Linked DNA regions of Homo sapiens. The gene in region 3 interacts genetically with the main gene of each other region. Each region holds a gene or a part of one and is shown on either strand. Other genes may lie near its edges.

Region 1 (3,239 bases), on a different chromosome or scaffold from region 3:
TGATGGACACTTGGGTTGTTTCACCTTTTTTGCCATTGTGAATAATGCTGCTGTGAACATTGGCATACAAATGTGTTTGTGTCGCTGCTTTCAGTTCTTTTGGGTATGTACCTAGGAGGGGATTACTGGGTCATATGTTAACTTTGTTTAATTTTTGAGGAACCACCAAACTTTTTCACAGCAGCTGCACTATTTTATATTCCCCAAAAGATGTATAATTTTAAACTATTTAAGCCCTGTACACTAGAGCTAATCCCTTGAAGATTGGGACCTTACTTGTCTTATTTGGAGGTGCTTGTTAAATTTATGTAGTAGTATGATACCTGTACTTAAGCATCACTCAAGGGTAAGTGTTCTAGGAAGGTTGATTTAGCTTATATGGAAGAACTGTTGAATAATGGCTTGATGAAAATCTCTTCAGAAATTAAAGTGTATGTTTCTTCCAACAAGAGTTCCTATTTGCCAGGTGCTGTGTGTGCTTAGATCCTGAGGGTATAAAGTCAAGACGGTACTGCTCCTCCCTGTAGTAAGTCCTTTTATCAGGGAAAGCGGATGAATAGAGTGATTTTTAGGGTTAAAATGGCAGGGTGAGGTTGTTCCACAGACCTTCCACTCTGAATCAAGAAAAAAAATTACCAAAAAAATCCTGTCCTAAACTATACCGTCCATAAATTGCAACCAAACAAAGAAGGAACAACTTTAAGTTACATCTCAAAATGGTGGCCAAAGAAAAGATTCTGAAAGACTGGATGATTGGTATGGGGGTAACACAAAGGCCTGCCCTCATTCCCAGAAATAGTAATGAGGGAAAATTAGTTAACATATACTGGAAATTCTCAATTTGGAGAAGTAGACTGTGGGGTTAAATAGGCAGTCCCAAGAGAAGTTATGGAAACAGGAGTGGAAGTCCAGAGGAGCCCAGTAGAGGCAGGCTGTGTTCACCAAAGTCAATCAGGGCTCAGCCAGAAAAACAGAATTGGGAGAGATGTGTTAAGAGATTTATTTCTGCTGGGCGTGGTGGCTCACGCCTGTAATCCCAGCACTTTGGGAGGCCGAGGTGGGCGGGTCATGAGGTCAGGAGTTGGAGACCAGCCTGGCCAACATGGTGAAACCCCGTCTCTGCTAAAAATACAAAAATTAGCCAGGCATGGTGGCGGGTGCCTGTAATCCCAACTACTTGGGAGGCTGAGGCAGGAGAATTGCTTGAACCCAGGTGGCAGAGGTTGCAGTGAGCCGAGATCAGCGCCACTGCACTCCAGCCCGGGCGACAGAGCGGGACTCCATCTCAAAAAAAAAAAAAAAAAAAAAAAAAAGCTTTATTGCAAAGAATTTGGTTTACGTGATTGTGGGGGCTGTCTAGGCCCTTAATTGTCAAATCTGTAGGGCAGGTTCTCAGGAAGGAAAGGCTGCTCTTAGGGCCTTTCAACTAATAGAATCAGGCCTCCCCAGATTATATAGGATAGACCTCTGAATTTAAGGTCAATTGGTTGTTGACTTTAGTCACATCTATAAAATATCTCACAGCAATACCTAGGTTAGTGTTTGGTTGAATATCTGGGGACTGTAGCTTCGTCAAGCTGACACAAGTACTGAACCCCACCCTGTCCTCAAGCTTCTGACTAGTGATGAAAAAGCAACACTTGGCACTCCAATTGTTGGTCTGGAAAGACAGTCCTTAGAAGGTGGGAAGCTTGTGTAGGTTTCACACTGTCAGAACTGATAAAAGGTGTGATATAAATCCCCCAAATTAATTAAGAGCAAGACAATATTGAAAATATTTTTAGAAAGGAAAAAATTCTTTCTGGTATATATCATCATAAGTATGTACTGTGTATCAGAATATAGACTGAGCATCGCAAGTCCAAAATCTGAAATGCCACAAAATCTGAAACTTTTGAGAGCTGACGTGACACCGGTGGAAAATTGCACACATAAGTTCTTGACCTCTTTTTTTTTTTTTTTTTTTGAGACAGAGTCTTGCTCTGTCATCCAGGCTGGAGTGCAGTGGCGCGATCTCGGCTCACTGCAACCTCTGCCTCCCAGGTATAAGCGATTCTCCTGCCTCAGCCTCCTGAGTAGCTGGGATTACAGGCGTGCACCAAACTTCCTTTCATGCACACAATTACTTAAAATGATGTATAAAATTGTATTCCAGCTGTGTATAAGGTATGTTTGAAACATAAATGAGTTTCTTATTTAAACTTGGGTCACAACCCCAAGATATCTTACGTATATGCAAAAATTCTAAAATTTGAAAAAACCTAAAACGCTTCTAGTCCCATGTATTTTGGGTAAGGGATACTGAACCTATAATTGATACAGAATAGTTAACATCAAAATATCAGGTTGAAAAAAGGTCACCTCTGAGACAGATAAACCAATGTGACCTCAGGTTTTTTTGTTTTTGAGACAGAGTCTCAGTCTGTCACCCAGGCTGGAGCACAGTGGCACAGTCTTGGCTCACTGCAGCCTCCGCCTCCCAGGTCAAGCGATTCTCTTGTCTCAGCCTCTCGAGTAGCTGGGATTATAGGCTACAGATGTGTGCCACAACGCCTGGCTAATTTTTGGATTTTTAGTAGAAACGGGGTTTCACCATGTTGGCCAGGCTGCTCTCGAACTTGAGCTCCTGGCCTCAGGTGATCCACCCGCCTTGGCCTCCCAAAGTGCTGGGATTACAGGCATGAGCCTCCGCACCTGGCAAAAAAATGTATACTAGGTTATTTCTAAGATGCTTATATGTTAAAATATTTTTTTCAGATTGTTCTCTTATTAGCTCAGGGGACTATATGAAAGTTGGATTCAAGTCAATATTTGCAGGGTAAGAAACTATTGTGACAAGAGCCTGTGCTTCATTGTAAGAAACTTTTGTATATTTCATTGGCTCTAGTACTCTTATCTGTTGTAAAACTTACAATTCTATCTAAGAAAGAAGAAACACATCTGGCTGGGCGCAGTGGCTCACGCTTGTAATCAATCCCAGCACTTTGGGAGGCCAAGATAGGTGGATCACTTGAAGTCAGGAGTTCGAGACCAGCATGGCCAACATGGTGAAACCCTGTCTCTACTAAAAATAGAAAAATTACCTGGGCGTGGTGGTGGGCGTCTGTAATCCCAGCTACTCAGGAGGCTGAGGCAGGAGAATTGCTTGAACCTGGGAGGCGGAGGTTGCAGTGAGCTGAGGTCACGCCACTGCACTCTAGCCTGGGCGACAGAGCGAGACTCTCTCAAAAACAAAACGT
Region 2 (2,989 bases), on a different chromosome or scaffold from region 3:
TATATTGAAGTGAATTTCATTTATTATTTATTATTGAAAGTCAGTGTTAAGTTTTTCTGGGAAATTCATGTGGTTAAGTCTGCTCAGAAGATGGTGAGTGCTGAACACTATGGCTGGCCACAGGCACCCTGCCCTTGGGAGCCTGAGGCATTGGTGGATCATCCCATGCTGTGAATGGACAGGAGCTGGGGCTGCCCCTCCTCTACATTGCCCACTTCCCTCCCTCCCATGCATACCTTTCCTTTGCTTTCATTTGATGGCCATGTTTACCATTTTACTGAGTAGAATCAGGAATAAGGGACCTTCCACAGGTTGTCCTCTGCCTTCCCTGCCCTCCCAGCCACATCCAGCATCCTCCCTATATCCCCTTCCTGACGCCTCTTGTTGCTGGAAACGAACCATGCAGCTCGTAGTCAGTCAGCCCTTCCCTGGGCTGGGATCTCATCTCCCACCTACCCAAGGACATTCATTCAATGAGTATCTCTCTCGTGCTACCACCCCTCCCCATATTAGGTGGTGCCCATCAGCAGCACACAGACATGAAACATGCCTCCCTGTCTTGGTCCCACTTCCCTCTTTAGCCACCACTTCATGTTTCTGCCCTCTTAATGGTAAAACTCCTCAAAAACGCTTGTGATACTCACTTCTTCAGCCTTCTTTCCCATGGGGATGAAGGCCCAGGGTTGAACATGACCGTGAATCCCAGTCCTTGGTAGCATCCCATACTTGATCCTCCCCTCCTTGCTCCTAGGATGTCCGTGGTCCCCCTCCTGCCCTGCTGGTTCCTCCTCATCCCCCAGCTGCCCCCTGGATTCATTCTCTCAACCTCTCCTCTGCATCGTCTGTACCTACTCCTCAGAAATTTCATCCAGTTTCATGGATTTTTAAGTAACATCACTATTCTGACAGCTCCAAATTTGTATCTCAAACCTCTGAACTCCACACTTGAACATGCTACTGCTTCCTTGAAATCTTCATTAGACACCTATTGGATGTCTGGTAGCCACTGCAAAGTTAACATATCCCAAATCCAGTTCCCGGCTTTCTTCCAACCAACCCCTTCCTTTGGTGGTCATCTCTGTTGATGGCGGCTCCATCCTTCCAGCTGCCTAGATCAGGTGCCTTGGAATCATCCCCTCACATCAGCCCATTCACATATCCTATTGGCTCTATTGAAAATACATTCAGAATTGGACCACTTGTTATGACTTCCATGGCCACCACGTGGCTCAAGCCACTATCATCTTCCTTCTGGATTATTACAGTAGGCTGCAGTTTAGTCTTGGTAGACCTGGTGGGTGCCTTTCAAGTGAGTTAAGATGGAGGTCGTGTCACTTGCTTGCTTACAGCCTCTCAGTGGTTTCCCTCTTTCACCTGCAATCAAAGGCAAACTTTGCAGGGGTGGCCAGGGCCCTGAGTGATCTGCCCCCCATTTCCTCTCTGACCTCCGCTCCTTCCTTGAGCATGGTAGGCAGTTCACAGTTGGGCCTCTGAGTTTGCTGTTCCTTTTGCCTAGGACTGTCCAGCCCCTCCATTCTCCCCAGCATCCCCATGGCTGATCTTGTACTCACTTCAGATCTCTACTCAAATGTCTGCTTCTGTTAGGCCCTGCTTGCCCATCTCCGACCTTCTTGTTTCCATGGCTCTGCTTTGTCTTTCTCATCTTCAAACCATGTTTCTCTTGTTATGTGTTCCTTGTCTGTCTCTCCTCACTAAAGTATAAATTGCTTAGGGCAGGGCCTCTGTTTTGTTTCAGTGCAATATTCCTTGTACCTAGAATGATGCCTAGCATCTGGAGGAGGCTTAATGAATATGTTTTGGAAGGGTGAATGAATGTGTCCGATTACTAAAATCAGTCTCTATAATTTAAGTGGTTTGGGATGAGATTTTTTTTTCCTTTTTATTAGATAGAGTCTCGCTCTGTTGCCCAGGCTAGAGTGCAGTGGCACAATCTCGACTCACTGCAACCTCCACCTCCCAGGTTCAAGCAGTTCTCCTGCCCCAGCCTCCCAAGTAGCTGGGACTACAGGTACCCATCACCATGCCTGGCTGATTTTTGTATTTTTAGTAGAGACGCAGTTTCACCATGTTGGCCAGGCTGGTCTTGAACTCCTGACCTCAGGTGATCCACCTGCCTTGGCCTCCCAAAGTGCTGGGATTACAGGCATGAGCCACTGCACCTGGCCAAGATTGTTTTTCTTGAAAAGACCGGTATATGGAAGTAGACAGCTCTAGAGTATGTTAGGTGGCAGTGGGATATTATTTTGAGTTAATTTTAAGCTATAAGCAGCAATCCACTCATTTGGAAAATGTCAGAAGAATTAATTATAGATGCATAAAACCAAAGTAAATTAAATAAGATAAGCCAAACAAGACAATTACAAGTAATGTTAAGTAACACATCGAAGCAGTTGTTTTTGGATTAATACCACCTTTTTCATTAAATATAAATTGGAATTGGATTTATAAATTAAAGGGAAGTGGTTTCTCTAATTTTTTTTTTTTTTTTTTTGAGATGGAGTTTTGCTCTTGTTGCCCTGGCTGGAGTGCAATGGCGTGATCTGGCTCACTGCAACCTCCGCCTCCCGGGTTCAGGCAGTTCTCCTGCCTCAGCCTCCCAAGTAGCTGGGATTACAGGCACGTGTCACCATGCCTGGCTAATTTTTGTATTTTTAGTAGAGACGGGGTTTCACCATGTTGATCAGGCTGATCTTGAACTCCTGACCTCAGGTGATCTGCCCGCCTCGGCCTCCCAAAGTGTTGGGATTACAGGCATGAGCCACCGAGCCCAGCCTAGTTTTTTTTTTTAAATTAAGCTTTATCATAGGAAGTTGTTAAATTTTTAATAAGTACATTTCTGCTTCTCAGTTGATGTCATAACTTAGTTATATTCTTAGTAAAAAGCAAAGGCTTAAGGCTGGGTGTGGTGACTCATGCCTATAATCCCAGCACTTTGGGAGGCTGAGGTGTGCACATCACTTGAGTTCAG
Region 3 (3,500 bases):
GTGTTTCAGTACCTTGAGTATTTACCAGGTTGGACTTCATTGACTGACTGGTTAAATGACATGTGCAGTATGATAACGAAAGCTAAGAGTTTCTCAGTTTAAGTTATACAACAGTTCTCCCCTGACCCCCAACCTCTACCAGCCTTATTTTCCTGGTAAATACGTTCTAAGATCCACAGTGGATACCTGAAACAATGGATATTACTATATCCTATCTATACTATGTTTTTTTCTATATGTATATACCTATGATGAAGTTTAATTTATAAGTCAGGGACTGTAAGAGATCAACCACAACAATAATAAAGTAGAACAGTCATTACAGTATGCCATCATCACTACTCTTGTGCTTTGGGGCTATTATTAAGTAAAATAAGAGTTACTTTGAACACTGACACTGCCATATGTGGACAGTTGATCTACTACCCGAGACAGTTACTAAATGACTAATGGCAGGTAACATATGCAATGCAAATATTTGTTGACCAAAGGGATGATTCATTTTCCAGGCAGGACAGAGTGGGACAGTGCGTAATTTCATCACACTACTTAGCGCACAATTTAAAACTTATGAATTATTTCTGGAATTCTCCATTTTTATATCTTTGGACAGTGATTGACTCAGTTGACTGGGGGTAACAAACCCTCAAAAGCAAAACCTTGGATAAGTGAGGGACTACTGTATATATACACACAGTTGTTTTCAGACGGCTTCTGTCGCCTAGGCTGGAGTGCAGTGGAGCAGTCACGGCTCACTGCATCCCCAACCTCCCAAGGGCTCCCTAGTAGCTGGGACTACAGGTGTGTGCCACCATGCCCAGCTAATTTTTTATTTTTAGTAGAGACGAGGTCTTCCTATGTTGCCCAGGATTGTCTTGAACTCCCGGGCTTAAGCAGTCTGCCTGCCTTAGCCTCCCAAAGTGCTGGAATTACAGGTGTGAGCCACCGTGCCCAGCCGTTATACAGACGGTTACATGCAGGTGTGTGTGTATATATATATATATATATATATGTACACACACAGTCATGTGCACACACATGCACACAGTCACGTGCACACAAACACAGTCGTGTCATTTAACAATGAAGATGGGCATTGTTAGGCGGTTTTGTTGTGTTATCATAGTGTGTTTACACAAACTTAGGTGGCATAACCTACTACATATCTAGGCTGTATGGTATAGTCTATTGTCCCTAGGCAACAGATCTGTTGGGCGTGCTACTGTAGGCAGTAGTAACACAATGGGAAATATTTGTGTATCTGAACATCAAAATGATGACTGTGCCACAACATTTGTATATACTATGTGTATATACTATGGCCCTCACTATAGTAATTTCTTAGGATAAAATTGCCTGTCTTGGTTCACTTTAGTTTGGGCTCTGTAAGGCATAGAGTACATATTGATACTCCAATATATTTATTTTACCTATAGTATAAGTAAGGTAGAAAATTTAAAATGATATCTTTGCACTTAAATTGTATGTTTTTATAAGAGCGGTTTTGGATGGGAAATCCAAGTTTTTAAACTTCATTTGGAGGAATGACGATTTTCAATGACAAAAACTGAGAAACTGGTCTAAATGTACAACGTACATTACAAGACAATAGAAGGGGGAGGTTCTAGTAATCTTGCTCCATTGCCAAGTCCCACTAAAATTATATTAAATGAATTAAAATATAATTTATTTTGGTACCTTGTGTTAGAAAACAAAATGTGTAGTATATTTAGTATTTAACTTTCCTTAAATACTAAATCTTAGTCTGATGCTGGAACCTCACATGTTAATAAATAGCACTGTCTTCTGACCCAGAAGCTTCTGCAGTAAAAAATGACTGTCCCAGATAAAGGTTAATTTTCTACCCTGATATCCCTAGAGTTAAAGTTTGTGACCTTCCTGGCCAAGAATGTAAAGATTATGGTAAATTTTAAGTTCCCATGTTTACCTAAAACAAAAATCCCCCAGCCAAGCAACAAACAGCTAGCTTTGTTATTTCTAACATCTTGTCAGTTTTTGAACAGGCCTTAAAAATAATGATTTTTTTTGTTGTTGGCGGGGAGACAGGGTCTTACTCTGTTGCCCAGGCTGAAGTGCAGTAGTGCGATCAGGGCTCACTGCAGCCGCGACCTCCCAGACTCTGGTGATTCTCCCACTTCAGCTTCCTAAGTAGCTGAGACTACAGGTGCGGTGCACACCACTAATTTTTGTGTTTTTTGTAGAGATGGGGTTTCATCATGTTGCCCAAGCAGATTTCAAGCTCCTGAGCTCAAGCTATATGCCTGCTTTGGCCTCCCAAAATGCTGGGATTACAAGTGTGAACCACCATGCCCGACCTGTTACTCTTTTTATATCCTTGTTTACTTCCTGTATCCTGGGAATCTGTACCTTTACCTCAAAACTCATTTTGCTATTAGTTTGTGTATAATATTAATACAAAACATTCACACGTGATTATACTTTCACGGAGGAATCTAGCAGCCAACTGTGGAATCTATCAGCCAGCTGTTTCATTTTTAATTGAGGCAGCACTGAAGAGTCATGCAATTCCAAATAAAAATCTGGGTTTCAGAGTCCTCTTGAAAATGTGGAAGATCTGACAACACAGTGCTTGCAACTGTCAAGGAAGTTAATCTTCTGGAGTTGAGTAGGATTGTCCCCTTTAGCTTTCCTCCTCTTTCCCAAAGTATTATATACGGTATACTAAAACTAGTTTGATGTTCCTGTGCCTTAGTGTATTAAACTGAGCCTTGGGTTTTTTCAAGTTTAAGATCAGTGTTATGCAGGGGTTGCAGATGTGTGTGCATGCCAGAATCTGGCAGATAAAGATAAAGTACTTGCTTAATACGTTAGGTATCATGAGTTTGTTTTTTTTTTTTTTTAAGAGCCAGCATGCTCTTTGTTCAGGTAGTAATACTGATTCACCAGATACAAACTCATTCACCAGATACAAACCCAGATTGTCTCATGCAAAACTTTGACATATGTTACCTTCTCTGTGTCTTAACAGAAGACTAGACTCTTCCAGCTGGTTGTTTTCAGGTGAGAATCTGGGCCCCTAATAATCAAATAGTATTTTTTTAAGTGGGTTTTCATATTAAATCCTTAGAATTTTTAAAAACAGCATTCAAGAGCTGAGTTTATCCTCTAGACTGCTAGTGTAAAACTTTTAGATAGATTTGAATTTTAGCTCTAAATGTAAATACTGTTTAATGTAGGATTGTTTCATTAAGCTTATTTCTTGAACTGGCACATTATAAAAAAATCCATCTTTTTGTGACATCTTAATTTTGGAACAAAATTTTATAGATTTTAACCTGAGGTCAGGAGTTCAAGACCAGCATGGCCAACATGGCAAAACCACTTCTCTACTAAAAATATAAAAATTTAGCTCGGCGTGGTGGCAGGTGCCTGTAATCCCAGCTACTTGGGAGGCTGAGGCAGGGAGAATTGCTTGAACCTCAGAGGCGGAGGTTGCAGTGAGTTGAGATCATGTCACT
Region 4 (3,500 bases), on a different chromosome or scaffold from region 3:
AAATCGGCCGGGCACAGTGGCTCATGCCTGTAATCCCAGCACTGTGGGAGGCCGAGGCTGGTGGATCACCTGAGGTCAGGAGTTCGAGACCAGCCTGACCAACATGGAGAAACCCCATCTCTACTAAAAATACAAAATTAGGCAGGCATGGTGGCGCGTGCCTGTGATCCCAGCTACTCAGGAGGCTGAGGCAGGAGAATCGCTTGAACCTGGGAGGCAGAGGTTGCAGTGAGCTGAGACTGAGCCATTGCACTCCTGCCTGGGCAACAAGAGCGAAATTCTGTCTCAAAAAAAAAAAAAAAAAAAAAAAATGAAATAAATCTTCAGCTTCCCGTCCCATGTGCAGACAATCTTTTTGTGATACACACTGTAAGGTACATTTTTTAAAAGAGTTACAAGTAGCAAAGCAGCAGCAAATGAGGAGTAACCTGGGTAACCGACTTAAGGTGAGCAAATCTTTCTCAGATCCCATAAATTACTGTATATGTAATAAACACTGATAATATCTGCTATTTTTGTAACATCAACAAATTAACATTACATATATACCTAAACAAAGACAACACAGTAGAGCTGTAAACTTTACATTCAGTTGAAAAGTTCAGACTTCTCTAGAGTTCACATTTCATGCCTAACACAGTTATTAACAAGCTGAGGCTACTAAGGAGTCTATGCAATCACACATATACAGTGAAGCCAAAGACCATCCAAGCCCATCAGCTCATCCCCAAAGAGGGGGTGACAGCCTTCGTCTGCCACCCACCCCACCACAGACCATCCTGATAGCACATACCCTCAGACAAACCTGCAGTCAGGAAGAGGAGGAAGAGCCACTCAGCACCTCACCATCAGTCACCTGCCCCTTCAAGGAGAATCAGAGACAACTCTCCACCTGCCCACTCCCACCCCCCCCCCCCCACTTCACTGGACAGAAGTCCAGGTCTTCCTGCCTGGATTTCTGGATGTTCATTCCTACACTGCTCTGAACACATCCCCTAAAATAACTGGTATCCTTCTCCAGCCTCCCCTCTGAATTCCAGATCTGTGACCTACAGACCCACACCTTCATAGTACATCCATCCCATCCCGGCATGAACAGGAACTCAGCCATTCCAGCAAGCCTTAAGCAGGAGTCTGCATCTTCCCCTACAGGCTAACTGGAGCTGGGGTCCACCTCACACCCCACTGCTGCTGCCAAAATAACTGCTGGAAAAGCCCCTGCTTGCTGAGGCTCAGGCCTTGTGGCAGGCACTCCACCCCACTGTGCCATGGGTCTCCCCCAGCCTGACTGCCACTAGGCATGATGTCCTCAGTGATTTCCATCCATGTGGCTCTCGGTCTCTCAGTTCCCTGACCACCCCTTCATTCACCTTTTACTTCACTCTGACAAGACCAGCACTGCCAAGGTTGCCTTTTAAACCACCATCTTCAAGTCATCTACTCTCTGAGCACCCCCTCCTATCATCTGGACCCACAGACACACTCAGGTATCTCACGCCAACTCTTTACCACTTCTCAGCTCTGCAACCCACCAGGCCCACCCTTCCCCACCACCCCCCACAGCTCCTCTCCTGTCTTCAATTTCCCCCCATCCACTTTATATCTCATGGCCCATCATCATTAACACCCAACTCCCCCTCATTCCCTATTTTTCTATGACTTATCTGCACAACAACAGCAAAGTGTGAAATAGATGTGAAGGTGAGGCCGGACAAGGTGGCTCACGCCTGTAATCCCAGCACTTTAGGAGGGCAAGGCAGGGGGTGCATCACCTGAAGTGAGGAGTTCAATACCAGCCTGGCCAACATAGTGAAACCCCATCTCTACTAAAAATACAAAAATTAGCTGGGCATGGTGGTGGGTGCCTGCAATCCCAGCTACTAGGGAGGCTGAGGCAGAATCACTTGAACCCGGGAGGCAGAGGTTATGCCGCTGCACTCCAGCCTGGGCGACAGAGCAAGACTCCATCTCAAAAAAAATTAAAAAAAAAAAAAAAGAACTCTTACAATTCAACAACCAAAAAAACCCAATTAAAAAATGAGCAAAGGATCTGAATAGACAACTCTCCAAGGAAGATATACAAATATACAAATGGCCAATAAGCATATACAAGATGTTCAACATCACTCCTCATCATGGAAATGCAAATCAAAACCACGAGATACTACATCACACCCACTAAGGTGGCTATCATCAAAGTGTTGGTAAGGGCGGGGAAACATCAGAACCCCTTACACATTGCTGGTAGGGATGGAAAATGGGCAAGTAGTTTGGAAAACAGTCTGGTGGTTCCTTAAAATGTTAAACATGGAGTTACCATTCAAAAACATGTTAAGTGAAAGAAATCAGGCATAAAAAAACCACATATTGTATAATTTCATTTACATGGAATGTCTGTACTAGGAAATTCCTTTGGGTAGTTTGCTTAGGACTCCCGATTTACATATTTTTTTTTTTTTTGAGACGAGTCTCACTCTGTCACCCAAGCTGGAGTGCAGTGGCGTGATCTCAGCTCACTGCAAGCTCTGCCTCCCAGGTTCACGCCATTCTCCTGCCTCAGCCTCCCAAGTAGCTGGGACTACAGGCGCCCGCCACCACGCATGGCTAATTTTGGTTTTGTTTTTTTAGTAGAGATGGTGTTTCACCATGTTAGCCAGGATGGTCTCGATCTCCAGACCTCCTGATCCGCCTGCCTTGGCCTCCCAAAGTGCTGGGATATCAAGTGTGAGCCACCACGCCCGGCCACGATTTCTTCTTGATGTAATGGAAATGTTGTAAAACTGATTGTGGTGATGGTTGCACAAATCTGTGAATTACTAAAAGCTACTGAACTGTATACTTTACAGGGATCAATTGTTTGGTATGTCAATTATATCTCAATAAATGTTGTCACCAAAAAAAAAAAAAATCCACAAATAAAGCAAAATTTTTTTTTTTTTTTTGAGACAGCGTCTCACTCTGTTGCCCAGGCTGGAATGCAGTGGTGTCATCTTGGTTCACTGCAACTTCTGCCGCCTGGGTTCAAGAGATTCTCCTGCCTCAGCCTCCGAAATAGCTGGGATTATAGGCATGCGCGACCACGCCTGGCTAATTTTTCTATTTTTAGTACAGACAGGGTTTCGCCATGTTGGCCAGGCTGGTCTCGAACTCCTGACTTCAAGCGTTCCACCCACTTCAGCCTTCCAAAGTGCTGGAATTACAGGCATGAGCCACCGCGCCCAGCCGTCAATTCTTTAAATTGGTCTACTATAGGTAGCAGACTGCAGTCCTAGCTGGTGCGAGGGAAGGTGGGGTGGAAGTCACAGGCCTTGCTGAAGTCTTAGGCCTGGAGGAGAGCTCAGGCCAGGGACTGGTGAGAGGTCACTCTAGCACTCTAGGGGGAAGGGCCATCTCTAGCAAGTGCCTCCATCTGTGGTGAAGTGGTGGGTGCAAGGAAGCTGTACCATCCGAACAGAATGAGACTCACTCTAGCAGGGCCCACACCAACGAACATCTCCAAA
Region 5 (3,500 bases), on a different chromosome or scaffold from region 3:
GAATGACTGCATCTTTCAAAAACTGTCCAGCAAAGTCTATAGAAAGATAAAAGTTTAAAAAAATGGCGAAATATAAACAGCGACGTGGGATAATAAGTGTTCATAGTACAGTCGTCCTTCGTTATCTCTGGGAGATTGGTTCTAGGACCTTCTCTGGATACCAAAATCTTTAGATGTTCCAGTTTCTGATAAAATAGCATAATATTTGCACATAACCTATGCACATCCTCTCCTATAGTTTAAATCACCTCTAGATTACTTATAATACCTACTCCAATGTAAATGCTATGTGAATAGTTGTTAACACTGTTATTGGTTAGGGAATAATGACAAGAAAAGTCTGTACCTGTTCAGCACAGATGCACTTGTATTTTCTGAATATTTTCTATCTATGGTTGGTTGAAATCACGGATGCAGAACCCATACATGGATATGGAGGGCCGACTGTACTATTCTTTGAACTTTACAGTATGTTTGAAAATTTTGATTATGAAATTGGAAAATAGGTAAAATGTTTTTGGTGTGTTTGTCTCAGATTGAACAACGTCATTGTGTGTAGTAGTGTCCTGTCAGGAGCTAGATGGTATTTTCTTTGTTCTGGACAGATGAGAGAACAAGAGAGGCAAGCTTCAGGTGGTGGAGAGATGTTTTTTATGCGCACACCTCAGGACCTCACAGGCAAAGATGGTGATCTTATTCTTGCAGAATATAGTGAGGAAAATGGACCCTTAATGATGCAGGTTGGCATGGCAACCAAGATAAAGAACTATTATAAACGGGTGAGTCTCTGCTCAGAAAATTTTTTTCCCATACATAATTCTGCTTATGCTTCCATAAACTTTTATGTACAAACTTTTTGTTATTAACATAGCTGTAGTGAGACAAACTGCAAACTTACATACAAATTTTTTATTATTAACGTAGCTGTAGTTAGAGATCTACTGGTAATCTGTGAACATATACCATAAATTTCTTGGGAGAAAGGAGTGGTACCTTTTTTTGTAGTTATAACATGTTGAGCATCTCAAATCTCAAAATTCGAAATCAAAATCCAAAACTTTTTTTTTTTTTTTGAGACTGAATCTTGCTCTTTTGCCAGGCTGGAGTGCAGTGGCATGATCTCCACTCACTGCAACCTCCACCTCCTGGGTTTGGGCAATTCTTCTGCCTCAGCCTCCTGAGTAGCTGGACTACAGGCGTGTGCCACCACACCCAGCTAATTTTTGTATTTTTAGTAGAGACAGGGTTTCATCATGTTGGCCAGGATGGTCTCGATCTCTTAACCTCGTGATCTGCCCGTCTTGGCCTTCCAAAGTGCTGAGATACAGGTATGAGCCACCATGCCCGGCCAATCCTAAACTTTTTGAGCACTATGATGATACTCAAATGCTCATTGGAGCATTTTGGATTTCCAGATTTGGGATGCCCAACTGGTAAGTATAATGCAACTATTCCAAAATCCGAAACACTTCTGGTCACAAGCATTTTGGATGAGGGATACTCAACCTGTATTAGTAAAGTGCTATGGTCATATTGTGTAGGATTATTGATATATTCTAAATAACTGGGTCTTCTGTGTTCCTTATAGAAACCTGGAAAAGATCCTGGAGCACCAGATTGTAAATATGGGGAAACTGTTTACTGCCATACATCTCCTTTCCTGGGTTCTCTCCATCCTGGCCAATTGCTGCAAGTGAGGAATTCTTTCCTGTTTTTACTGTTAACTAAGGAAATTGATAAATGAGGAACCAGTCAGCTCAGAAAGAACTATTATAATTCTAGTTGATTGAGATGCTTTAATTTTAAGTACAAAGAAAATAAGTATAATCCAAAAATGTTTTAAAGAAATCTTTTTCTTAAAACTGGCTGTGAATTGTGTTATTCTCAGGCTAAATGTAAAATAGGTTTTTAAAAATACACACTGGTAAGCTCAGTAACATCTGGGAAGCATAAGGAAGTCAACCTAGGATGAATTTACTATAAATTTACTATAATTTATGAATATTTAATTTTTGTGTATAAAATTGATAACATTTTGATCACATTAGCTGTGGTTATTGTGAATATTGAACCACACCTGAACTGTGCCATCTACAGTCCCCAGCCATAGTGAAATGCTTTTTTTTTCCCTCCTTTGTTCTAATGGGTGTAAAGAGGCTCTCTTATAACAGCTTTTATATATTCAAGGGGGGAAGTATGATGGTCCACAAATGATGTGGAAAATCTCTAGCACTCTCCCATCTTGTTTTTTTTCTCCATTTCATTTCTCTTGGCAATCTTAACCATTTGTCCTACTCTTATACCTAGTTTATTCTACTGTTGTTGTTGTTTATTCTCCTAAAGCATCTGCAAAGCTCAGTTTTTTTCTTTATCCTTTACATTCATAGTCTATTGCTAACCGGATGTTTAGTATCATCTTTGTATTGTTCTTCTCCTTTCCCTGGAACTTTCTGTTGAGGTTTTCTACCAATTCAGCCTCTTCTTTTGTGGCTACTTTTGTAGTCTCTTAAAGATCTTTTTCTGGCCGAGCGTGGTGGCTCACGCCTGTTAATCCCAGCACTTTGGGAGGCCGAGGTGGGCGAATCACCTGAGGTCAGGAGTTCGAGACCAGTCTGACCAACATGGAGAAACTCTGCCTCTACTCAAAATACAAAATTAGCCGGGCATGGTGGCACATGCCTGTAATCCCAGCTACTCGGGAGGCCGAGGCAGGAGAATCACTTGAACCCGGGAGGTGGAGGTTGCAGTGAGCCGAGATCGCGCCATTGCACTCCAGCCTGGGCAACAAGAGCGAAACTCCATCTCAAAAAAAAAAAAAAAAGATCTTTTTCTGTATTCTTCTGTAATTCTTTTTCTGCCTATATTTCACATGTAGAATTTTCTTTCCACACTCAGTGATGGTCTTCCCTCTTTCTGTCTACTCTTCTGATTTTCGGGGAAGGCTTTCCTTAGACTCAGGCTTCTTGTGACAGTTTATCCCTATCTTGCCTCTACTTAAACTGGCTCAAATGTTTCTGTTCAGCTGTCCTCTGTCCTACTGTCTTGTGTTTTCCTTTTGTTTTTTCCCAGCCTATTCTGTCTAGCACTCTTTCTACCTCATTGGTTGTTTTATGATTTATTTGTTTGGAGATAGGGTCTGGCTCTGTGACCCAGGCTGGAGTGCAGTGGCACGATCTTGGCTCACTGCAACTTCTGCCTCCTGGGCTCAAGCCATCCTCCTACCTCAGCCTCCCAAGTAGATGGGACAATAGGCGCACGCCACCACATCCAGCTAATTATTGTATTTTCTGTAGAGATGGGGTTTTGTCATGTTGCCGAGGCTGGTCTTGAACTCCTGAGGTAAAGTGATCTACCTGCCTCGGCTTCCCAAAGTGCTGAGATTACAGGCATGAGTCACTGTGCCCGGCGTTGTTTTGTTTTTTAATTAGTTTAATAATTTATTCAACAAATGTTGCTCTCACACGTTGTGTGTTGGGCTACACTGGGGTCTAGGGTAGTAG
Region 6 (3,500 bases), on a different chromosome or scaffold from region 3:
AATACAAAAATTAGCCAGGCATGGTGGCAGGCACCTGTAGTCCCAGCTACTCAGGAGGCTGAGGCAGGAGAATCGCTCGAACCCAGAGGCGGAGGCTGCAGTGAGCTGAGATCATGCCCCTGCACTCCAGCCTGGGTGACAGAACGGGATTCCCTCTTTGAAAAAAAAAAAAAAATTCACGTTCAAGGTACTATATATAAGGTGTCCTATTTAAATGAATGCCATTCATTCATTTATTTATTTGCTGGAGTCTTGCTCTGTCGCCCAGGCTGGAGTGCAGTGACATGACCTCGGCTCACTGCAACCTCTGCCTTTTGGGTTCAGACGATTCTCCTGCCTCAGCCTCCTGAGTAGCTTGGGACTACAGGTGCGTGCCACCACACCTGGCTAATTTTTGTATATTTTGTAGAGACAGGGTCTCATCTTGTTGGCCAGGCTGGTCACGAACTGCTGACCTCAGGTGATCTGCCTGCCTCAGCCTCCACTGCGCCCAGCCTGAATACCCTTCATTTAAAGCCAATAGTATATCCTTTGCCTCCCGGGTTCAAGTGTTAAAGTCAATTGTATATTCTTAATAAGATTCAATAATTGTCCTATTCTTAAATACATTCATGAGTATGAACCATAAATAGTGATCTTGAGCAGTGTTTCAAAGTGTTTTAATAAGAGGAATGAGATGGGCCGGGCGCCGTGGCTCACACCTGTAATCCCAGCACTTTGGGAGGCTGAGGCGGGCAGATCATGAGGTCAGGAGTTTAAGACCAGCCTGGCCAACATGGTGAAATCCCATCTCTACTAAAGATACAAAAAATTAGCTGGGCGTGGTGGTGGGCCTCTGTAACCCCAGCTACTCGGGAGGCTGAGGCAGGAGAATCGCTTGAATCCGGGAGGCAGAGGTTGCAGTGAGCCGAGATCGCGCCTCTATTGCACTCCAGCCTTGACGACAGGGTGAGACTGTCTCCAAAAAAAAACAAAACAAAACCAAAAAAGGAATGAGATGACTCATAGGAAATGATGTTAGAGTATAGAATATTTTGTATCATGTCATTGGCTTAAATCTGAAGTACTGAAGGTTTTCACAATCCCAAATTACTGTTGCCCTTGGCCTCCAGAGCTGTAAACTGTCCAGTAATCTCTATGAAGTTGAGATTCTTTGCCCAGTGTTAAGAAGATATATCCCTTTGACACTGGCATGATCTGTTCCTTTTAAAAGAGAAGAGAGAAGGGGCTAATAAAGTACACATTATCTGCACAGTTGACATCCTTGTCATTTTAAACTGTTTTAAAAATTATTACTGTACCCTGAAAGTAAGTAGCATAGAATTTGCTCATTATGAAATGACGAAGTTGGGGCCTTTTAAGAAGCCAAGAATGCTTGGTTGGCAATCACTTAGGAGGCAAAGGATTGCTATTTATGGTGGTATTTAATGTCATTTTCAGTAGTACTAAGTTAGAAAGGAAAACGCCATAATGTGTGTAAAACTCTAACCATTTTGGAAGGTTATCAGAATACAGTTGCCTATAGTCTTTTCACTCCACTAAAATTTGTAAGTTGGTTTAGAGTAGCATTTCCCAAGCTCTTCCACTGAACATTAGTTCTGTGTAGTGCTAATCAGTGTCCTTTGGGGATAAAAAGAGGATCCTTGACAAAAAATGGCCAAAGTGAAATGCCTTTCTTTACTGCAGAATTATTATTCAGAGCCTTGGTGCTTATTTGCCTATGACCCTTCAAGAGGGAAGATACATTACGCGGTGTTACTCAGACTTACTTGGTCATGGACCGCTGTTTGTGAGAACACCTAATAAACGTTTCATGCTATGACTGGTGTGTAGTGGAGCCCAGTTGAGCAGTTCTGGTGTAGTCTATGAATAAAAAAATGAATCATTTTGTATAAGATAGCTTGGTAATCGTGGGAAAGGACTTTTCTGAGAACAAGATACATCTTCAAGGTAACGTAGACTCTTAAGGATGAATGTGATTTCAAAGGTCATCTAATCCAATGCCCAATAACAATAATAATAGTAGCAGGTACCATTTTTTGAGTACATGCTTTTTATCAAGCACAGTGTTGTTATTCTACATGCCTTATTAACCACTGGGTCTTAGTGATTTTTGAATCTTCTTTATTTTTTATTTTACTTTAATTAATTTTTTTGAGATGGGGTCTCACTTTCTTGCCCACGCTGGAGTGAGGTGGTGTGATCATAGCTCAATGCAACCTCAAACTTCTGGGTTCAAGTCATCCTCTTGCCTCAGCTTCCTGAGTAGCTGGGACTACAGGGATGTAGTACCATGCCTGCCCAGCTAATTTTTTTATTGTTAGTAGTGAGGAGGTCTTGCTATGTTGTCCAGGCTAGTCCCAAATTCTTCAGTTCAAGTGATCCTCCCACCTTGGCCTCCCAGAGTGTTGGGATTACAGGTGTAAGCTACCGTACCTGGCTTATTTTTTATTTTTTGAGATGGAGTCTCACTCTATGAGGTTCAAGGCTGGTCTTGAATTCAAAAAAATTTGTTTTATTTTTTAATTTTTAATAAACTAATAAATGGACGTTAAGGAGATGACAAATTCTGAATTATTTGCTTTGTTGTCCAGGCTGGTCTTGAACTCAGTGTCTTCACTACTGCATCCAGTCACCAGATAACTTTAGCATCCTGTTTTCCACGTTAGTGGTCTAGAGTGCTGCCATCCTCCCACTGTGTCCCCTTCTCCAGCTTATTCTCCACACTGTACCCAATGGTAAGGAACTAAACAGTCTTAAACATGGGGCTGGGAAAATCAGAATTACACTTTAAACGTGGGACTGATTGTGCCAGTCCAATGTTTAAGACGCATTAGTTCCTTATCATTGTCCTTAGAATAAAGTTTTAGTATATTAGCTTTGTCCAACCCTGTATACCTTTCTTTTTTTTGAGAGAGAGTCTCGCCCTGTCACCCAGGCTGGAGTGCATTGGTGCAATCTTGGCTCACTGCAACCTCTGCCTCCTGGGTACAAGGGATTCTCCTGCCTCCAAGGGATTCTCCTGCCTCAGCCTCCTGAGTAGCTGGGATTACAGGTGCCTGCCACCATGCCTGGCTAATTTTTGTATTTTAGTAGAGATGGGGTTTCACCACGTTGGCCAGGCTGGTCTCAAACTCCTGACTTCAGTTGGCCTCCCAAAGTGCTGGGATTAAAGGCATGAGCCACTGCGCCCGGCCTACCTTTCTAACTCTACTTCTAGCTTCTTGCTTCTGGGCTGCTGCTATACCAAACAGGAATGTAATACTTTCTGTCAGCTTCAGGCCTTTGCACATGCAGTTCACTTTGTCTATCTTGGTTTTTATTCTTAGGATTTTAATTCTCCTAAGAAGCTTTCTCTGACCAGCCTAAAACTTACGTAAGCCCTGGGTTAGGTGCTATGCTTATGTCCTCCCATAGCATTTTGCATTTGCATGTGTTGTAACTCTTAATGTACAGCATCATGATTGCCTATTTTAACTTTCCTGTTTGTTACAGTAGAC
Region 7 (3,500 bases), on a different chromosome or scaffold from region 3:
ACAGCTCTCTTCGCCATACATACTTCTGTATTATATAACTTTGTATTAGTTTTCTTTCGCACCATAACAAATTAACAGAAACTTAATGACTTAATACCGATTTATGTATTTTACTTTTATTTTTTATTTTATTTTTCTGAAACGGAGTTTCGCTCTTGTTGCCCAGGCTGGAGTGCAACGGTGCGATCTCGGCTCACTGCAACCTCTACCTCCCGGGCTCAAGCGATTCTCCTGCCTCAGCCTCCCGAGTAGCTAGGATTATAGGCATGCACCACCACACCCAGCTAATTTTGTATTTTTAGTAGAGATGGGGTTTCTCCATGTTGGTCAGACTGGTCTTGAAGTCCCGGCCTCAGGTGATCTGCCTGCCTCGGCCTCCCAAAGTGCTGGGATTACAGGCGTGAGCCACAGCACCCGGCCTAACAATACCAATTTATTAGCTCACGGTTTTGTAGGTTAGAAGTCCAGTGCTGTGTGCTTGGTCCTTGTATTAGTCCATTGTCACACTGCTGTAAAGAAATGCCTGAGAGTGGGTGATTTATAAAGAAAAGAGGTTTAATTGGCTCACAGTTCTGCAGGCTCTAGAGGAAGCGTGGCTGAGGAGACCTCAGGAAACTTGCAATGGTGGCAGAAAGCAAAGGAGAAGCAGGCACATCATGGCCAGAGCAGGAGAAAGAGAGGGGGGAGGTTGGTATACACTTTTAAACAACCAGATCTCTTGAATACTCTTACCACAAGAATAGTGCCAAAGGGGGAAGTCTGCCCCCATGATCCAGTCACCTCCCACCATGCTCCTCCTCCAACATTGGAGTTTACAATTTGACATGCAGTTTGGGTGGGGCCACAAATCCAAACAAGGCAGAAATCATGGTGTCAATAGAAATAGAACTGAGTTCTCATCTGGAGGTTCTGAAAGAAAAGCCACTTCCAAGCCCATTCTTATTGTGGGTAAAGTTCATTTCCCTGCAGTTAGATGACTGAGGCCCCCATCCCCCTGCCAGTTGTCAGCTGGGAGCCTCTCTTGGCTCCTAGAGGCCACCTGCATTCCTTGTCACATGGCCCCCTCCATCTCCAAGATAGCAACAGCACATCAGATCCTTCTTGTGCTTCAGATCTCTGACTTCCTCCGTCTCCGACCTCTACACCTAGATTTAAGAGACTCATACGGTTGGGTGAGCCCAGCCAGGTAGTGTATATTAAGGTAAACTGATTTGCGGCCTTACATCTGCAAAATCCCTTTTGACATACAAGGTAGGATGATCATGGGGGTGATACTTGATCCTAGCCATAGGTTCTGCCCGTAGTCAAGGGGAGGAGACTCTGCAAGGGCAAGGGTCACTGGGGGTCATCTTAGAATTCTGCCCATCCCAGGCCTCAACCATGAACTCTTTGAAAATGATTTCTCAAATCTACTCTGATTTATTATACTTCCCATTGTTTTTCTGCTAAAACACCTTCCCCTTCCATGTGTCCCCAGTCCCGTCATTGCCTCTGGGCCAGCTGTCCATCAGCATTGTCTTTCTTCCACCTAAGCTCTGAGCCTCCAACATCTCCAACTTCTTTTTTACATTATTCTGTTTTGCTGTTAGCAAAATAGAAGGCTTTGCTGTCTTCTGAATCTGTCCTGGATTTCACTGATAATTGCCCTAGTTCAGGGCCCCATTTCATCATGCCTGTTTGACATTTGTCTCCTAACTGATTTCTCTACCTCCACCCAACTTCTATATTTGATTTATCTCCGCCAGTCAATTGTCCAATACACGCTTCATCAGCAGTGCAGATTGGGAGAAGAATTCTAACATGCCCCAGCAAGCTGTATGCAGTAGTATGCACCTATAGTCCTAGCTACTCAGGAGCCTGAGGTGGGAGAATCGCTTGGGTTCATGAGTTCAAATCCTGAACTCACCAGCTTGGGCAACATAGTGAGACCCCATCTCCAAAAAATGTGCCACAGCAAACTCACAGGAGTGCTGCAGGATATTTTAAATTTTTTAGGGAAACACAGAGACATCTTGTCAGAATACTAATACATGGTTTGACCCTAACTAAATAAAAGGAATTCTTGGCCGGGCACGGTGGCTCACGCCTGTAATCCCAGCACTTTGGGAGGCCGGGGCGAGTGGATCACCTGAGGTCAGGAGTTCGAGACCAGCCTGGCCAACATGATGAAACCCCGTATCTACCAAAAATACAAAAATTGGCTGGACATGGTGGCGGGCACCTGTAATCCCAACTACTAGGGAGGCTGAGGTAGGAGAATCACTTGAACCCGGGAGGCGGAGGTTGCAGTGAGCCAAGATCGTGCCACTGCACTCCACCCTGGGCAACAAGAGCAAAACTCCGTCTCAAAAAAAAAAAGAAAAAAAATTTAAAAGAAATTCTTGAGTATTTCTTTTGCCCTGTGTTTGCCATGAACCAAGAAAGTTTGGGAACCTCTGTCATGTGACCTTTGACCAGTCATTTCACTCTGGGTCCAACTTCCCACGTCTACAAATGATATGGGTAGAAAAGAGGATCTCTCTGGGGTCCTTTTCTACTGTGTGTGCATTTATGTAAAATGTCAGACTCAGCTTTGCACCCACTGCAGGCTTCCACCCCCATCTAAGGCCAACTCTGCCTGTCTTTCCTATCCCACCATGCCTCTCAGATCAAGACCTCCTGGCTACACCTGCACTTGAGCCAATATTCTCCACTTGGCTCACTGTTACACGTCCTCTGTGAAGCCCTTCCTTACCACGCAACACATAGTAAACACTTGGCTCTGCTGTTTATATGACACTTCTAAAGTGTGTGTGTGTGTGTGTGTGTCCGTGTGTGTCCATCCATCATTCCCTGTCTAGGCGAGCTTTTAGAAGAGAGGAATTGTAAGTCGTTGAGTGACTGCTGTGCGGCAGGCTGTGCAAGGGAAGGGACTATGTCTTTGTCTCTTAAATGGTAAGATTTAGTGCGTACCTACCCACTTTCTAAGCAAGCAGACTAGGGAGTTCCTTCTCTGCCAGAGGAGGTCCCAGCACCTTGGGCATTTGGAGCTTGCTTCTGTTTCTCTAACGGGGCTCTCCTGCAGCACTGTAATGGCGTTGACTGGCGTCAGAAGCTGGACTCTCAGCGAGGGGCTGTCATTGCCACGGAGCTGAAGAACAACAGCTACAAGTTGGCCCGGTGGACCTGCTGTGCTTTGCTGGCTGGATCTGAGTACCTCAAGCTTGGGTGAGATTCCTGTGCAGGAGCTGGCAGCTGATCTTGTGAAAGGAAGGGTCTGGGTAGGGAGGTTGACCCTCCCCTCCCCGTGTACTGGACAATTGACTGGCAGAGATAAATCCAGGGGTGGGGTAGAGATGGAGGGGTCAGTTAGGAGACAAATGCCAAACAGCAGGCATGCTGAATGGAGTCCTGAACTAGGGCAATGGTGTCAATGAAATCCAGAACTGAGAACTCAGAAGACGATGTTTTCCCTTTCCCTTGAAAATAGCAGTGGACTGCCGGGCGCGGTGGCTCATGCC

The links.
Region 1: changes in YTHDC1 (region 3) and SAP18 together harm fitness more than expected from each alone (negative genetic interaction), as found in Homo sapiens cells (one large-scale study listed by BioGRID).
Region 2: changes in YTHDC1 (region 3) and MCM3AP together harm fitness more than expected from each alone (negative genetic interaction), as found in Homo sapiens cells (one large-scale study listed by BioGRID).
Region 4: changes in YTHDC1 (region 3) and AFG3L2 together harm fitness less than expected from each alone (positive genetic interaction), as found in Homo sapiens cells (one large-scale study listed by BioGRID).
Region 5: changes in YTHDC1 (region 3) and TAF1 together harm fitness less than expected from each alone (positive genetic interaction), as found in Homo sapiens cells (one large-scale study listed by BioGRID).
Region 6: changes in YTHDC1 (region 3) and NFYC together harm fitness less than expected from each alone (positive genetic interaction), as found in Homo sapiens cells (one large-scale study listed by BioGRID).
Region 7: changes in YTHDC1 (region 3) and EIF3D together harm fitness less than expected from each alone (positive genetic interaction), as found in Homo sapiens cells (one large-scale study listed by BioGRID).

What each region holds. Positions count from the first base shown.
Region 1 is NC_000013.11:21,143,119-21,146,357, forward strand, and holds part of SAP18 (histone deacetylase complex subunit SAP18), read left to right. Parts: intron 1-1,973; coding exon of another isoform or gene 1,974-2,166; intron 2,167-3,239. UniProt on the Homo sapiens protein: Component of the SIN3-repressing complex. Enhances the ability of SIN3-HDAC1-mediated transcriptional repression. When tethered to the promoter, it can direct the formation of a repressive complex to core histone proteins.
Region 2 is NC_000021.9:46,237,623-46,240,611, reverse strand, and holds part of MCM3AP (germinal-center associated nuclear protein), read left to right. Parts: intron 1-2,989.
Region 3 is NC_000004.12:68,343,591-68,347,090, reverse strand, and holds part of YTHDC1 (YTH domain-containing protein 1), read left to right. Parts: intron 1-3,500. UniProt on the Homo sapiens protein: Regulator of alternative splicing that specifically recognizes and binds N6-methyladenosine (m6A)-containing RNAs.
Region 4 is NC_000018.10:12,353,228-12,356,727, forward strand, and holds part of AFG3L2 (mitochondrial inner membrane m-AAA protease component AFG3L2), read right to left. Parts: coding exon 3,467-3,500; intron 1-3,466. UniProt on the Homo sapiens protein: Catalytic component of the m-AAA protease, a protease that plays a key role in proteostasis of inner mitochondrial membrane proteins, and which is essential for axonal and neuron development.
Region 5 is NC_000023.11:71,383,357-71,386,856, forward strand, and holds part of TAF1 (transcription initiation factor TFIID subunit 1), read left to right. Parts: intron 1-605; coding exon 606-779; intron 780-1,588; coding exon 1,589-1,693; intron 1,694-3,500. UniProt on the Homo sapiens protein: The TFIID basal transcription factor complex plays a major role in the initiation of RNA polymerase II (Pol II)-dependent transcription.
Region 6 is NC_000001.11:40,698,204-40,701,703, forward strand, and holds part of NFYC (nuclear transcription factor Y subunit gamma), read left to right. Parts: intron 1-3,500. UniProt on the Homo sapiens protein: Component of the sequence-specific heterotrimeric transcription factor (NF-Y) which specifically recognizes a 5'-CCAAT-3' box motif found in the promoters of its target genes.
Region 7 is NC_000022.11:36,512,167-36,515,666, reverse strand, and holds part of EIF3D (eukaryotic translation initiation factor 3 subunit D), read left to right. Parts: intron 1-3,064; coding exon 3,065-3,207; intron 3,208-3,500. UniProt on the Homo sapiens protein: mRNA cap-binding component of the eukaryotic translation initiation factor 3 (eIF-3) complex, a complex required for several steps in the initiation of protein synthesis of a specialized repertoire of mRNAs.